Linked DNA regions of Homo sapiens. The protein of the gene in region 1 interacts with the protein of each later gene in a pairwise test. Each region holds a gene or a part of one and is shown on either strand. Other genes may lie near its edges.

What was found.
Region 2: the proteins of CECR2 (region 1) and LRPPRC interact in a two-hybrid assay, tested with the Homo sapiens proteins (one study listed by BioGRID).

The regions. Positions count from the first base shown.
Region 1 is NC_000022.11:17,547,425-17,554,459, reverse strand, and holds part of CECR2 (chromatin remodeling regulator CECR2), read right to left. Parts: intron 6,313-7,035; coding exon 4,896-6,312; intron 2,430-4,895; coding exon 2,318-2,429; intron 1,626-2,317; coding exon 1,620-1,625; 3' UTR 1-1,619. UniProt on the Homo sapiens protein: Regulatory subunit of the ATP-dependent CERF-1 and CERF-5 ISWI chromatin remodeling complexes, which form ordered nucleosome arrays on chromatin and facilitate access to DNA during DNA-templated processes such as DNA replication, transcription, and repair.
Region 2 is NC_000002.12:43,971,974-43,979,008, forward strand, and holds part of LRPPRC (leucine-rich PPR motif-containing protein, mitochondrial precursor), read right to left. Parts: intron 5,304-7,035; coding exon 5,182-5,303; intron 5,080-5,181; coding exon 5,021-5,079; intron 4,257-5,020; coding exon 4,170-4,256; intron 3,245-4,169; coding exon 3,118-3,244; intron 2,786-3,117; coding exon 2,641-2,785; intron 2,323-2,640; coding exon 2,177-2,322; intron 1,928-2,176; coding exon 1,822-1,927; intron 1,742-1,821; coding exon 1,634-1,741; intron 1-1,633. UniProt on the Homo sapiens protein: May play a role in RNA metabolism in both nuclei and mitochondria. In the nucleus binds to HNRPA1-associated poly(A) mRNAs and is part of nmRNP complexes at late stages of mRNA maturation which are possibly associated with nuclear mRNA export.

The sequences.
Region 1 (7,035 bases):
TTAGCAAACTGTAAACACGACAGTTCCATGCTTCACTAGGAATCCTGGAATTGGAGGGAAACACTCTACTGGCCCCTCCCACAGCTGAATTTATAAGAAACTAGGGCAGATTAATATTTCATAGAGACTCTTCTACTATCCCAAAAGCATGCTTAAAAATATGCTATTCTTTACAAAGACCTGTAATTTCAGTATTTTCCTTAGTTTTTTCTTTTGTGGAATATTCAAAAGTTTAAAACATGGGTCCTAACTTTGGTGACCTTTCAGCTAAAATCAAATACAGAATGCTAACGAGGGAGAATCCAGTGTAATTCAACTCTACAACTGTAATAAAGTAATTTAATACTGTAAAATGGTTTCCTATCACAGATACAACAGATAATTCCAAGAACTTGTTCTTGATAGCTATTTTAAATCACCATGACTGATTTTACTATGATTCACTTAAAACGAATAAAAACTATATATACTGAAATATTCCTAAATTCAAACTGTAAATCTATAGAATACATTTTTCCTATTCAAACCTGTGCAATTCTTTATTGATACTAAAATATACAAACCTGAGTAGTCACTTCCACAAAATGTGATTCGTGCCAGAAAGCTGTGTGTGATGCCTTCTAGATCACAGTCCTGACAGGGAGGTCTGTGATGAGGACGATTCATCTTCTAATACGTGAAACACTCTAGCGATCCCAATTCCTGATACTGGTTTACAACTATTCGGTAGGGCTGGTGGCAAAATCAGGAAGGGACACCACTTTCTCAATTTGGGCCACCAGCATGAGAGAGCAGCCTGTCTTCCGGGCTGAAGCTTCTAGTAGTCTCCTGAGAGCAGTCTGCCTCCAATGGAGACACCAGGTGCTTAGGGGACAGGTGTTCTCTCTCAGGCTGACTGGAAGGAAGGAAGGCCTTTAGCTATTCTGAAGGCTGGCTGGCCACTAAGGAAACACAGTGACATATTACAAGATCAAACCTTTCCTACCCTCATCTCCGGCTCCCATAAGTATTCAGTGTGACATGATTGTAAACAGATAAAAATCACTCCAGTGCTGTGTGCCCACCAGTTAGGACCCCCATTTCTTCCGCATCCCCACCCACCCTTCCCACTTTATGTACAATACATTCACCACCAACAAAAATTATTTTAAAAGGCAACATGAAAATTCTGTAAACTGGACCCAGCTCCAAAACCATTAATACTAAGAGTAGTCCCTTCCCCAAATATATACCTGAGTTTAGCTGCTCATCAAAGTTTAAAAGCACCACTCCATTCTTGAGTATACCCCCTCCCCCAAGTTTAAAGTGATTTTCCCTGAAAAGTGTCTCAGGATTTGGAAAAGTCATCATTAACTCCACGTTCATTAGTTTTGCCTGACTGTCTACATCAGCTGTGCAAGAGATCCCTGGCCGAGGACCTTTGCAATCTGTGTGTCAGTCATCTAAGGAGTGTCCTTTTAGGGCCCGTGACTGGCTCCAGCTCAAGTATGGCACGAGTGGGTCGCCGTGAAGGGGTGGAGCAGGTGATGGGAATAGAGCTGACAGGGCACTCCCCAGTTCTCCACATTCCAGTCTTCGTGTGCAGCTTTCCATTGCTTGGGGCTCATTTCCTCCTTGGACTAGCTCTGAAAGAAACAAAGACATTTTAAACAAAAATAAAAATTGGGTTGTTAAAAAAAAAAAAACTTAAGTAAGCCAAAGAATGTCCAAGCTCCTCATGTGTGAAAATGGCTTGATTCTGTTTCATCAGTTACAGTTTACTTCCAGAGGGTAGGTTCTAGAGTCCTGGACTTCTCAATTCAGATCCCAGTCCCAGTGCTTAACAGTAGTAGGACTTGCACACTGGGAAATGATGATGATGCAGCCAATGAGAACTACTTTGTGGGGGTCAAGGGAAAGACTGCATGGGAGAGAAGCACTGCACGAGACAACGCATGGGAGAGAAGCAGCACTCAGAGGCAGCTATTACTACTTTAAAACCCACCAACTAGTCTCTCTCCAATGAGAAAGGTGGGAAGCATAAAACAGACAAGGGATCATGGCAGAAAAAATGTTTGCAGATGGCTTGGAAAAAATGAGGTTTAAATACTCACCAAATAGGTATGCATTCCATATCACAATAAGAAAAAGAGACATGTGAGAGGTGACTTCCGAGGCCTCTTGCTCTTTTTCCAAGTGCCAAGGAAGCACGATACAGGCAAAGTTCCTGTATCCACAGGATACCTTAAAACATTTTTTCAGAACAGCAAGGTTGTCATATACTTACTTCCTACCACCTGGAGGAAGAAGAACAGCTCTAATTTTTAGTGATCCTTACCTGATCCAGGGGAAGTGTTGGAGGCTTATGAGGCGGCACCTCCTCCTGTGATGTTGCTGCTGTGGGGGTCTTTGGGAACGAGGCCTGCGACTGGACCGGGTGCATCTGCATTCTACAGCCACGAGAAAGAAGCAATGAAGAATTAATGAAGACGTGTTAACGACAGAAGAAACAAGACACTGTAGTCACGAGGGTACTGCCTTCATCACCCCGGTGATCAGGCCTGGAATCATCCATACTGGGACAACTCGACATTCTGTGCCCCCTGGGGCAGTAAGTGGCACGCACACGCACCACCTACTGCACTCCTGACAAAAGTGTTTAATCTATTTTTTTTTTTCTTTTAGAGACAGGGTCTTGCTCTGTCACCCTGTTAGAATGTAGTGGCAGGATCATGGTTTACTGCAGCCTCAATCTTCTGGGCTCAAGTGCTCCTCCTGCCTCACCCTCCTGAGTAGTGTGTGCTACCATGCCTGGCTAAGTTCTTTATTTTCACTAGAGACAGGATCTCACTATGTTGCCGAGGCTGGTCTCGAACTCCTGAGCTTAAGCAATCCTCCTGCCTCAGCCCCCGAAAGTGCTGGGATTATAGGTATGAACCACTGCACCTGGCACAAGAGTTTCATCTACACACAAGGAGACTGTGTGATGAATCTGGAATCTGGAACACTCTCCATGATAACTGGCCTGGACTCTTTGGAAAACAAAACAAAGATATGACAACTGCTATAAATTAAGAGACTAAACAGACACGGCAGCCAAATGCAAATCCATGAGCCTTCATTGGATCCTTTATCAGAAAAAAACAATAAAAATAGAACACAAAGAAACGACTCTAAAAGACACTCTGGGGACAACTGAGGAAACAGAAACAAAAACTCTATTAGATACTGTTATTTGCCTTGAGTGTGGTAATCGTTTTGAAATGGTGCTCCAAGGCATGTCCATTCTTAGGAGATGCATGCTCAAGTATTGAGGGGTTAAGGGCCATGATGTCTACAATTTACTTTCCAACAGCTTAGGAAAAAAAGCAAAGCAAAGAAAACAGGTATTTAGAGACATATAAAGCAAACACGACAAAATGTTAAATAGTAGAGAGGGTCTAGCAATAAGATGACAGGATGGCACTGAGGAGGGGAACACTGGTTTTTATGCTGAATGGTACTGGTTTCAAGACTATGCTTCATAACTTTTTTTTTTTGAGACAGAGTCTTGCTCTGTTGCCCAGGCTGGAGTGCAGTGGCATGATCTTGGCTCACTGCAAGCTCCGCCTCCCAGGTTCACGCCATTCTCCTGCCTCAGCCTCCCGAGTAGCTGGGACTACAGGTGCCCACCACCACGCCCGGCTAATTTTTTGTATTTTTAGTAGAGACGGGGTTTCACCGTGTTAGCCAGGATGGTCTCAATCTCCTGACCTCGTGATCTGCCCGCCTCGGCCTCCCGAAGTGCTGGGATTACAGGTGTGAGCCACCGCGCCTGGCCGCTTCATAACTTTCATTTGTATCTATCGATTTGAAAACTTCCTGGATGGCAGATCACCTAACTGGATCTGGAGAACAACACTACACAAGCATGTGTGAAAGAAGTCTCATGGGGACTTGTTTGCATTCTGGATAAACCTGGTTTTCTCATTCAATGATAGGGTAAGAAATGAGAGGTATGTAGTAAAACTTCAATACTACATGATCTCCTCTTCTACTCCTGGGTAGGCCTATTTTTTTTTTTTTTTTTACCTTGGTCAGAGTGTCTCCACATGGCAGCAATGTTGACACAGGCTTGCTTACAGCTCTCAAACTGTGGTTATTAAGTTTATAGTATCATACAAAACTCAGCCAGGTGTGGTGGCGGGCACCTGTAATCCCAGCTACTTGGGAGGATGAGGCAGGAGAATCGCTTGAACCTGGGAGGCAGAGATTGCAGTGAGCAGAGATCGTACCACTGCACTCCACCCTGGGCCACAGAGTGAGACTTAATCTCAAAAATAAATAAATAAATAAATAAATAAATAAAGTTTACAATATCAAAATCTAAGTCAGTCATTTAAATGCCAGTTCATTTTCATGAGTGGAAAAAATTTCAAAGATAAAGTTGGGCTCTAAGTTTAATACCTTCCTACAGAGTGTACAACATCAATAATTCACATATTTTTTTTGTTCCTAGACCATGAACTGTTATCTTCATCTCTAAGGCCATTTTTCTGTTTAAAATGAACATCCAGGCCAGGTGTGCTGGCTCATGCCTGTAATCTCAGCACTTTGACAGGCTGAGGCAGGAGGATGACTTGCGCTCAGGAGACTAGGACCAGCCTGGGCAACACGGTGAAACCCTACCTCCACCAAAAAAAAAAAAAAAAAAAAACCAAAAAGTTAGCTGGGTGTGGTGGCATGTGTGTAGTCCCAGTTACTTAAACAGCTGATGCAGGAGGATCCTTGAGCCTGGGAGGTCGATGCCGCCGTGAGCCATGATCACACCACTGCACTCCAGCCTGGGTGACAAAGTGAGACTCTGTCTCAAAAATAAATACATAAAATAAACATCTGTTCTCTCTTTAGGGGGAAAAGCCTGAATGCAATCTTACCCTGATGGTCTGTACATTTCCTGGAAAGGTCCTCTTATTCCACTTCTAGTGCCAATTTGTTCCATCATCACAGCTTGAAAGTGACCCAGGCCTTCTTCCTGGCAGCGATAGATGGGACCCTCCTGAGAGAGGCCGTTGGGCTGGGTGGCCCCTGGGTGGTGAGGTGGGAGGGCAGCCACAGGGGAAGAGTAAGCCCTGGGCTGAAAGTGACTGGCCGGCCGCTGAGGGGTATAGGGAGGCCCCGTCTGCAGCATCACACTGTGGGGTGGAAATGCAGATGAACCAAATCCCATTCCTGAACTCAGAGGCGGAGGAGTTCCATAGAGATACTCGCTGGCTGACAACGAGCTCTGCCGCTTGGTAGCTGCGTTATGGTTGTCCAGGTCTAAAAATTCTTTGGGACTCTCTGGCCTCTCCATAGATTCATCCAGCTTCTCTTCCTCTGGACCAGGATTCTGCCCGTCATTTGGGACTTTAGCAGCCACTGCATCCATACGGGTTGGAGAAGTTAAGGCAGCATTCAGTGTCTCACAGCCTTGCAGACTGGCCATGGCATTCTTATCTGAGAAGAGGGACCTTGGTGGGGGAGGCTGACTGGCTGGGGGTCCGCTTGGGCTTCCCTGGGGATGGAGAGGTCTCTGCCAGTCAGAAAAGCTCTGTGGACAGGCATAGTAAGGAGTTCGCTGATAGTGGTGGTAGGAAGGCTGTGGCGGTGGGTGGTAGGAATACCTCATTCCTTGTGGGGGGCGATACCGGGGAAAGCCTCCAGAATGTGGGTGGTTAGACTGAAAGCCCCTTGGGGGAAAATGCTGGGGATGGGATGCTGGGGACTTCCCTCCCATCACAGGGCCCACACCCTGCAGGCCTGGACTGATGTGGTAATGGGCAGCTGAATTCGGGTACTCTAGGCCAGGCATATACAGCGGGGGAAACTGGCTCACAGTGCCTCCCGTCAAACCGGGGTCTGTGCTGGGCGGTGTCGCTGCGTTCTGTCCCGTGCATGGCATGGTTTCCTGCAACGTTCTGCCTCTGGGGCAGAGCAGCTTTTCGGAACCACTGCTACCAAGGCCCTTCCCCTCCGATCCACAAGGAGATGCTTCCCCAATGACTCCGTTCTCGGATAGAGCGCCCCTGTCTGCCACCGTGGAGAGGTCTCTCACGCACCCTTGGGCGGCTGGGCCGGGGTAGCTGCTATCCGAGGGCCAGGGATTCTTGCCCTTCATTGCTTTACAGTTGTCCGCAGATTCGGAGGAGCTGCTTTTGAGCTCCGGGCCCACTGTTTCCCTTTCTTGTGGTGAGCTCTGCCTGGTGCAGTCAGTCTGCAGGGGAGGTGTGGGGTGAGGTAGTTGTGTGAGGTAGACCCCCTCTGAAGTACCAACACCTGGTGGTTTCTCTTCAAGGCCAGGCAACGGCTCTGCTGCAAAAAAAAAAAAAAAGAGGAGAAAAAATAACTCAGTAGCTGAAATGACAGTATTAATGTGAAGAACATGCCTGAGTCAGATTAAGGTGGATGTGTGGTGATTCAAGCCCCACCTGGAAATTGTTTGAGTCCCTGAAAGAGGGCAGGACATTGGGGTCCCTGTACACTTCCTTTCACCCCTTTCACGGACACAAAGGTAAAACCTAGCACCTCTACATTCACTCTTACAGTGGGCCGGAGAATGGAAATGTCCTTAACCGTGGGTTGCCCGATTCGTAAGAGGCTGAGAGACGGCTTGTGGCTCACGGACTCTAGGCAGATGCACGTGAAACACACTGGGAGGGGATGGTTGTCATCAGAATCACTGGCCATGCTGGGAAGCTCTAAAATGGGATGCAACCAGAAAGAACAGGGCATGACGGGCGCTCAGGAAGGCCAAATGCCTGGTTTCTGCTCCACGAGAATAAAAGCTCCACAGGAGGGACTTCTCCGTCTCACTGTCCTCTCAGTTCATGCACACAGACTCAATCACTTTGTTGAATGAATACATTCATTTTGTCTGCATGTCTTGAAGACAAGACGCCTACAACATGAAACTCAAAAGGCATCTTTAGGGGCCGGGCACGGTGGCTCACGCCTGTAATCCCAGCATTTTGGGAGGCCGAGGCGGGCAGATCACGAGGTCAGGAGATTGAGACCATCCTGGCTAACACGGTGAAA
Region 2 (7,035 bases), on another chromosome or scaffold:
ATTAAAAAATTCACTCTCTTTTAGCAATGTTATTCGTGTAAAAACTGGCAACTAATTTTTAAACAGCAGCTAAGAATTTTTAGAAAATAAACACAGTATAGTACTTACAAAAGCTGAATATGGAAGGGTTATAGTATAAAAAAGGATATTTTAAAAGGAGGACAGAAACCCTCTATTCTAATCCCAGCCTAATCACACCTAGACGTGGAAGCTAAGGTCAGTCACTGAATGTCTGTGTGGCCCTCAGTTCCTTCATTCACGTAATGTGAGCTTTCAGTACAGCACTTTTAAAATCTAAATTCTGAGATTCTAAGACAAGATGGATTTGAGATAAAGCCCATTTTCTACTATTTCAACTGCTACAACCATAGAAAGAAATTACCTAACTCTTTTATGTTTACTAAGTAGTAAAAATGTAGTAATCAATTCAACTGTGACATGGTTGTGGAAAGCAGATTAACCTGATGAACAAACATTTCAACTGGTACCAAAAAAATTTTCATACTTGTGTAAAGGTGGACAATACTAACATGCCTGAAGAGTTTGATGGAATGATGTAAACTTTCTGTGGTTCCAAAACACTGGGTTATAGGTTACCTTTTGGAGCTTTCAGACTGGAGGATATACAAAGAGTTAATCAAACTAGCATATTGTTTTCACAAAGATTTTTCTAAAAAGGATTTAGAGACTTTTATAGCCAGAAACAATTAGGGAATACTTGTTTCACTATTTCCTTTAAACCAGAAGACGGCTGTACATTTAAAATAAAATTGCAATATGAAAGTCTGCTAAAAGCACTTTTTTTGTTGTTTGTGCATTCTGTTTGTCACCCAATGTCACACTAACAATTCTGCATCTCATTCCAAAGCACATTATACTTCGAGATAAAATGAAAAAGACCATTTTTTGTTTCCCCAAGGGGAAAGTACTTCTGTTAAAAGCATCTTTTTATGAGACTACTCTTTCTGAATTACCAATAATGCAAACCGAAGAATTAGATACTGTACTCTAAAATTTAATATTTGTTCAATTCTTATTCATATCCTATAGACATCCCATGTGTACAAGGGAAAAGTATGATAAATGCTTAAACGTACTTAAGAACCTGAAAGATTGAACATTTTTGTCCTTCAATCAGCAGGCTGTCAGGTCATGAGTACTCATTTCACAATAAAAGTTTTCCTGCCTTTCCTATTATTCTAACTAAGCTCAGTTAAAAAGAAATAGATTGGCCCACAAAGAAAATGACCATACTTTTTGTTTTCATGAACCTAATTGTATATACAACTTTATCTTTATTAAAGGTAGACAATCTGATTTCAAACACTATATATAAAATCAAGAACTAAAGAGTTTTTTTAAGAACTTAAAAAAACTACGTTCATTAAGTTTGAATATCAAGATCAGAGATGAAATAAGAAATGAAATTAATGAAATTCAGATGAAAGAAATCCATCATGTTTTGTTTTTTAAAATGCTTACACATAATACTTCATGATGACTTAAAACAATTCCATTATCTCATAATACTCAGGAATAAGTATGCTTTTCCAAAGAATCCAATTAGATGTGCGTGCAAACTGTCATACTGGCTCTGGGAACCATTACAAATCGGTAAAAGGCAAAATCTAACCTTGAACATTTTTTTCCTTCCGACGTCCAACTAGCAATGGCCAGAAATAGTGAGGTCTGATAGGAAAACCTTCCTCCTTCACAGCCTTCATTAAGGCTTTTGCCAAATCTGAAAGAGATATCATAAAAGATCACAAAGCTACCTCAGCAAAACTTCCTTACTTGGCTTTAACTTTAAGAATGTAGTACCAGTTTTATTGGCGAGTAAAGCACAATGGAGGGTGAACTGCAGAGGAAAGGAGTGCATCTGGACTTCCTTTAACTTCTTACAGTAGTCTGTTAGCTTCTCCACAGGCTGTGGGAAAAAAGTCACCACATTAGCTGGATTGGCAAACACCCCACCGTTTGACCTGCTGCAAATATTCTACCACTTCTGAGATGAGCATTTTAAACCCCGCATCCTCTTTCTACCCAAAAATCTTGCAACACAAGAACATTGTTATGATGTTTACAACTGGTCTAATCTTATAAATGTTCCTATACTTTAAAGAATCTTATTTCACTGCCAATTACATTGTCTACAAAGTAAAAGTGGACAGAATACCGTATTCATAGTCACACAGTGTTGTAAAAAGAAACTGCCAAAGACACTTGGGCCATCTTCCTTTGATACGGGGCATGCTAGTAAAATTTGCAACGCTACATCTTCCAATTTTTCAGTGACTAAAAGTAAAATGAGGTTCATTGCATCTGGGAAGAAAACAAAGACATCTTTTGTTAATAAACTGAACAATATTTTTACACTGCAACCAATGTTCCAATACTGAAGACAAAATAAGAATTGCAAACATCAAAAGCATATAACTGCCTAAATAACAATAAAACACCTGCAAATCAAATCATCCCCATGTGTTCATTAACTCATGTTTTTGGGCTTATTTAACTGACTTTAAGAGTTCTATGTTCAACTCCCACAATGCCCATTGTTAGAAAATGTCCTTTCCATCATGTAAGAATAGCAATTCAGATTTTTATAAAAATCATGTAAATAGATTTTTTTAAAACTACCTGGAATATATCTTCTTTCACATGTAACTTTTTCCAAAATTTCTGAGACATACTGAGGATACCCAGCTTTACTGAAGCTAAAAATAATTTGCAGTAAATCACGGTCCATAAGGTGAAGCTCGGACTTCTCCACCTTCTCCAGAGTCTATAGAGAGTTCCAGAAATTAGAAGACAAAGTTAGAGTGTTTTTATTTAAGTATTAAAGCTAAATAAAATATCCAGATTCAAAAAACTAGGGAAAAATACCACCTAAAGGTTTACGACTTCTTTTAAAAAACAGGAAATACTCTACTTCAACAGTAACTGTTACATACCAGCACCGAGATACTAAACTATAATAATTCTCCATAAATACTACTTTCTGCAAGGAAACATCTTTGAAAACAGGTATAAACTTCACTTTCCTGCCTCATGTAAAACATAACACAAATTTTTACAAATGATTTTAAAGTATGTTTATTTAGACATAAGTCATACCTGCTTAACATGGTCAATGTCGCCCTTCTCAGCATATGCATTCAATAATGCGAGGTATGTGTCTGGACCAGGCTCAATTCCGGCATCTCTCATCACTGTGAGAATGTTTTCTGCATTCTCCATATCACTACAAGTTAATTCAAAAAACAGATTATTATGCTTTTGCCAAATTTAATATAGTTATTCAAACTAAAACATATGCTTATTAAAATAAAAAATGCTAAGTACCATTTGGAATTATGATGTCAGAAAAGAACTAATGTATATTAAACTGGATATATGTTTCTGAAATAATAAAGATCATAAACATCTGATCCCCCATTAAAAAATAATAATAATTACATAGACATTAAATAACATACCCTCTTAATATTATGTAGGTTATGACTCAGACTTAACTTTCGAGGTAAGAATAACATTTAGTAAATTACTCTTCAAAAATAAAAATATTTTCCAGAGCAGTTACTTCAGATCAGATCAAGCCCAGTTTCTTTTTTCTTTTTTTTTTTTGAGATGGAGTCTTGCTCTGTCTCCCAGGCTGGAGTGCAATGGTGTAATCTCGGCTCACTGCAACCTCTGCCTCCCGGGTTCAAGCAACGCTCCTGCCTCAGACTCCCAAGTAGCTGGGATTACAGGCACCTGCCATCATGCCCGGCTAAATTTTTATATTTTTGTAGAGACCGGGTTTCACCATGTTGGCCAAGCTGGTCTTGAACTCCTGACCTCAGGTGATCTGCCCACCTCAGCCTCCCAAAGTGCTGGGATTACAGGCATGAGCCACCACGCCCGGCTTCAAGCCCAATTTCTAAAAATTCAAATAAAAGAAAGATTTGTGGAACAAATGTAAAAGCTCATTATAAAAATATTAGTATGCTCTACCTCATATACTACAGATTTTTTTTTGAAGGGATAGACAAATGTATTTTAAGAACTGTCTACAATAATTTTCTCTAATTTAAACCCCACTTAACAAACAAAAAAGGAGTAAAATGACCACTTTAGCATCTCAGCCATCTATCACTTAAGAACCAAAACCTTAGGTTGAACATTACCCAGCTCTGGCATGCCCTGTCACAAGGGCACTGAATACTGCCTCTGTAACTGGGAGATCCTTAGTTTTCATAAATCCAAGAATCTTGCTGCAAAGGAAAAACGAAGATACTCATTGAAAGTATTTATAAGAACACTCTTTACAACATGTACAGAATTAGGCCTTGAGTTACTTTTGTTTTTAAAATATAATAGTAATATACATTTGTTTTAGAAACCACAAAGAAAGAACTAATCCCTTTGATCCCCTTCCCACAAAACCCCACTCTCTAATGTATCAACAGTCTTGAAGTACTATCGATACAAATACTAGATTTTTAAAAATCTGATTATCTGATTTGTCTTACACTACTAATTACCCTTTTAAAAGCATAGTTTCATAAGATTCTTTTAGATAAAAATGAAATTATGTATTCCAATTTATCCCTTATTTTCCAAACCTTCCATTCATAAGTAGTAATAAATTTTACATAAGCAGAGAAATGGTGCAACTGATTTTCTACACTACTTCCAGTTTTATAAATGAATACAGCTTAAATGGTTAAGAACATTTCCCTTAGGAAATATTTAAAAAAAAAAAAAAAAAAGCAAAGTCAGCTTTATAGCTCAACAACTTTATACCTCTCTCCAGTAAATCAAATTTTTAATTAAAATAGCAACTTTTACTTATCTTTTCTCTCTTACACGATAATTTTATATTTTATGTAAGTCAGATTACCAGATTTTCTAGATTAAAACAGTTCTGAAACAATTTCCTCCATTAGGAAGAAGCTTTAAAACAAAGAGTGAACAGACATTAGATTTACAAAATGTACAAATTTGTTCGCTTAAACATGTTCATACAGATCCATACCTGGCACCTTCAATATCTCCTACATTACAATAAGAAGCAATCAATCTCTGGTATGTCACCTGTCAATGAAATGGGCCAGTTAATTTTAAATATACTTTTTTTTCTGAGTAAAGAAAAAAAATGGTGGATGTGAAAATATATTCACAATAGCAACTACTTACTCGATTTGGTTGAATGTTTGCTTCCTCCATTTTTGCCAGGAAATCAGTTGGTGAGAATTTATATTCATTTTGAAGATAGACTTTAAGTAAAGCATTATAGTGACTCACATCATACACAGCACCTACAAATGAAATTTAAAATGAATTTTTAGAAAAGCATTGAAAATCCTATGCTTTAAAGTGGACCTAAATTTAACAAACAAAAAGAGTAAAACTATCACTTTAGCATTTCACCCATCCATCTTGGCGCTCAGACCTATCTACACAGATACTCTGTCACACAGAGCAAGCTAAGCATGTAAGACAGTAATTACTGAGTTACTGTATAGTTACAAGTAACTGCCTATTCGGATATTAAAAGGCCTCTTACTTATGAAGCACAAAATTATCTTCCTGTTAGAAAACGCTGACAATATCCCTATATTTAAAAGTGACTGTAAGATTTTTCTATATAAAGCAGTCCTCACATTACAGACACACTGTGAAGAATGGATTGTAACTTCAGTTCTTTCACACAGTAGGACTGTGCTGGCAATTCTGTCACTCAAAGCCTTCATTTTAAGGATGCATTCCATTTTCAGCTGATGAACATGATCTATGGTATGCTCTTGTTAATTATCTGTATTCTAATGACCTTTGTTTTCTTTGTATCCCTACTGTTTAGGGCCACATCAAATAAGGTTACCACACAGCCTTACTCTACTGAGTCATGACATCATGGTCTTTATATCAATTTTGTGGTAACATGTCTCACTACATTTTCATGCATTAAATTTCACATCTTTATTCAACTGCCTGTGACCATACAGGCCTATGGTTAGTATCTGGGGGTGAGAGTATGTGATTTTAGGCAGCAGAGAGCTGTTCCATTAAATTAATACACATTTTTATCTTAACAGATATGTTTCTTTCATACTATGTTTCAGGCACTATGCTAAGTGTTCCACATATAGTGGCTCACTCAAACTTCACAACAACTTTGAGACACTATTATCAGCCCCATCTTACAGATAGCTCAGATCTGTCAACAGCTCATTCTGTAATTTTGGACAAGTTACTTAAGCTAAAAGATCTCTTGTATCTTTATAAATCTGTAAACAAGAGTCAAACTGGCAAACTACAAGGTTTCTGGCAATATTAATTCAACAAGTATGTATCAAATGCCATTATACACAAAGCATCATGCTACTGTCAAACAGGAAAATAAAGAAGCCATGGATTCCATCCTTATAAAGCAGACACTTATACAGGAGAGACCTATCTGTAAAGAATGTTAATATAATAACACATTGTTAATCTTTATATGGAGGAATTAATGTTATTACTGCTGTGTAATGCTTTTTTCTATTTTAGAATGTAACCTTTTCTGCATATATTTCTCCCAGTTCAATGACTTACTGACATACAGAAATTTCTAATTTTTAGAGATTCAATATTTTAGCTTTACTTTTCTGCTCCTTTTATACTTATAAAATCCTTTTCCATTCTGAAAGTCAACATTTATCTATATAGTTTTTAACTTAAAAAAAAATCAACTTATCAAAATGTATTCTAGATGTATTCAAAACTGTGAAGGAAGAATCTGTCTTTATCCTGTAGTTTTTTTCACATAGGTCCTACTCACTTTTTGAAGGATAGTCCTAAATATTTTATTTATCTGTAGCTATACTTTCTTGGATTCTTTTCTCTATTTTCTTTTATAACTAGAAGAGGTATGGATTCTTAAACATTTAGTGAGTCCAGCTAATTACTGTGAGCTGATTTTCTGGGATTTTGCAGATTAAACAATCACATCATCTAAAAATAATAACTTCTTGTATTGTTTCACATCTTATTTCATTGCATTATACATGA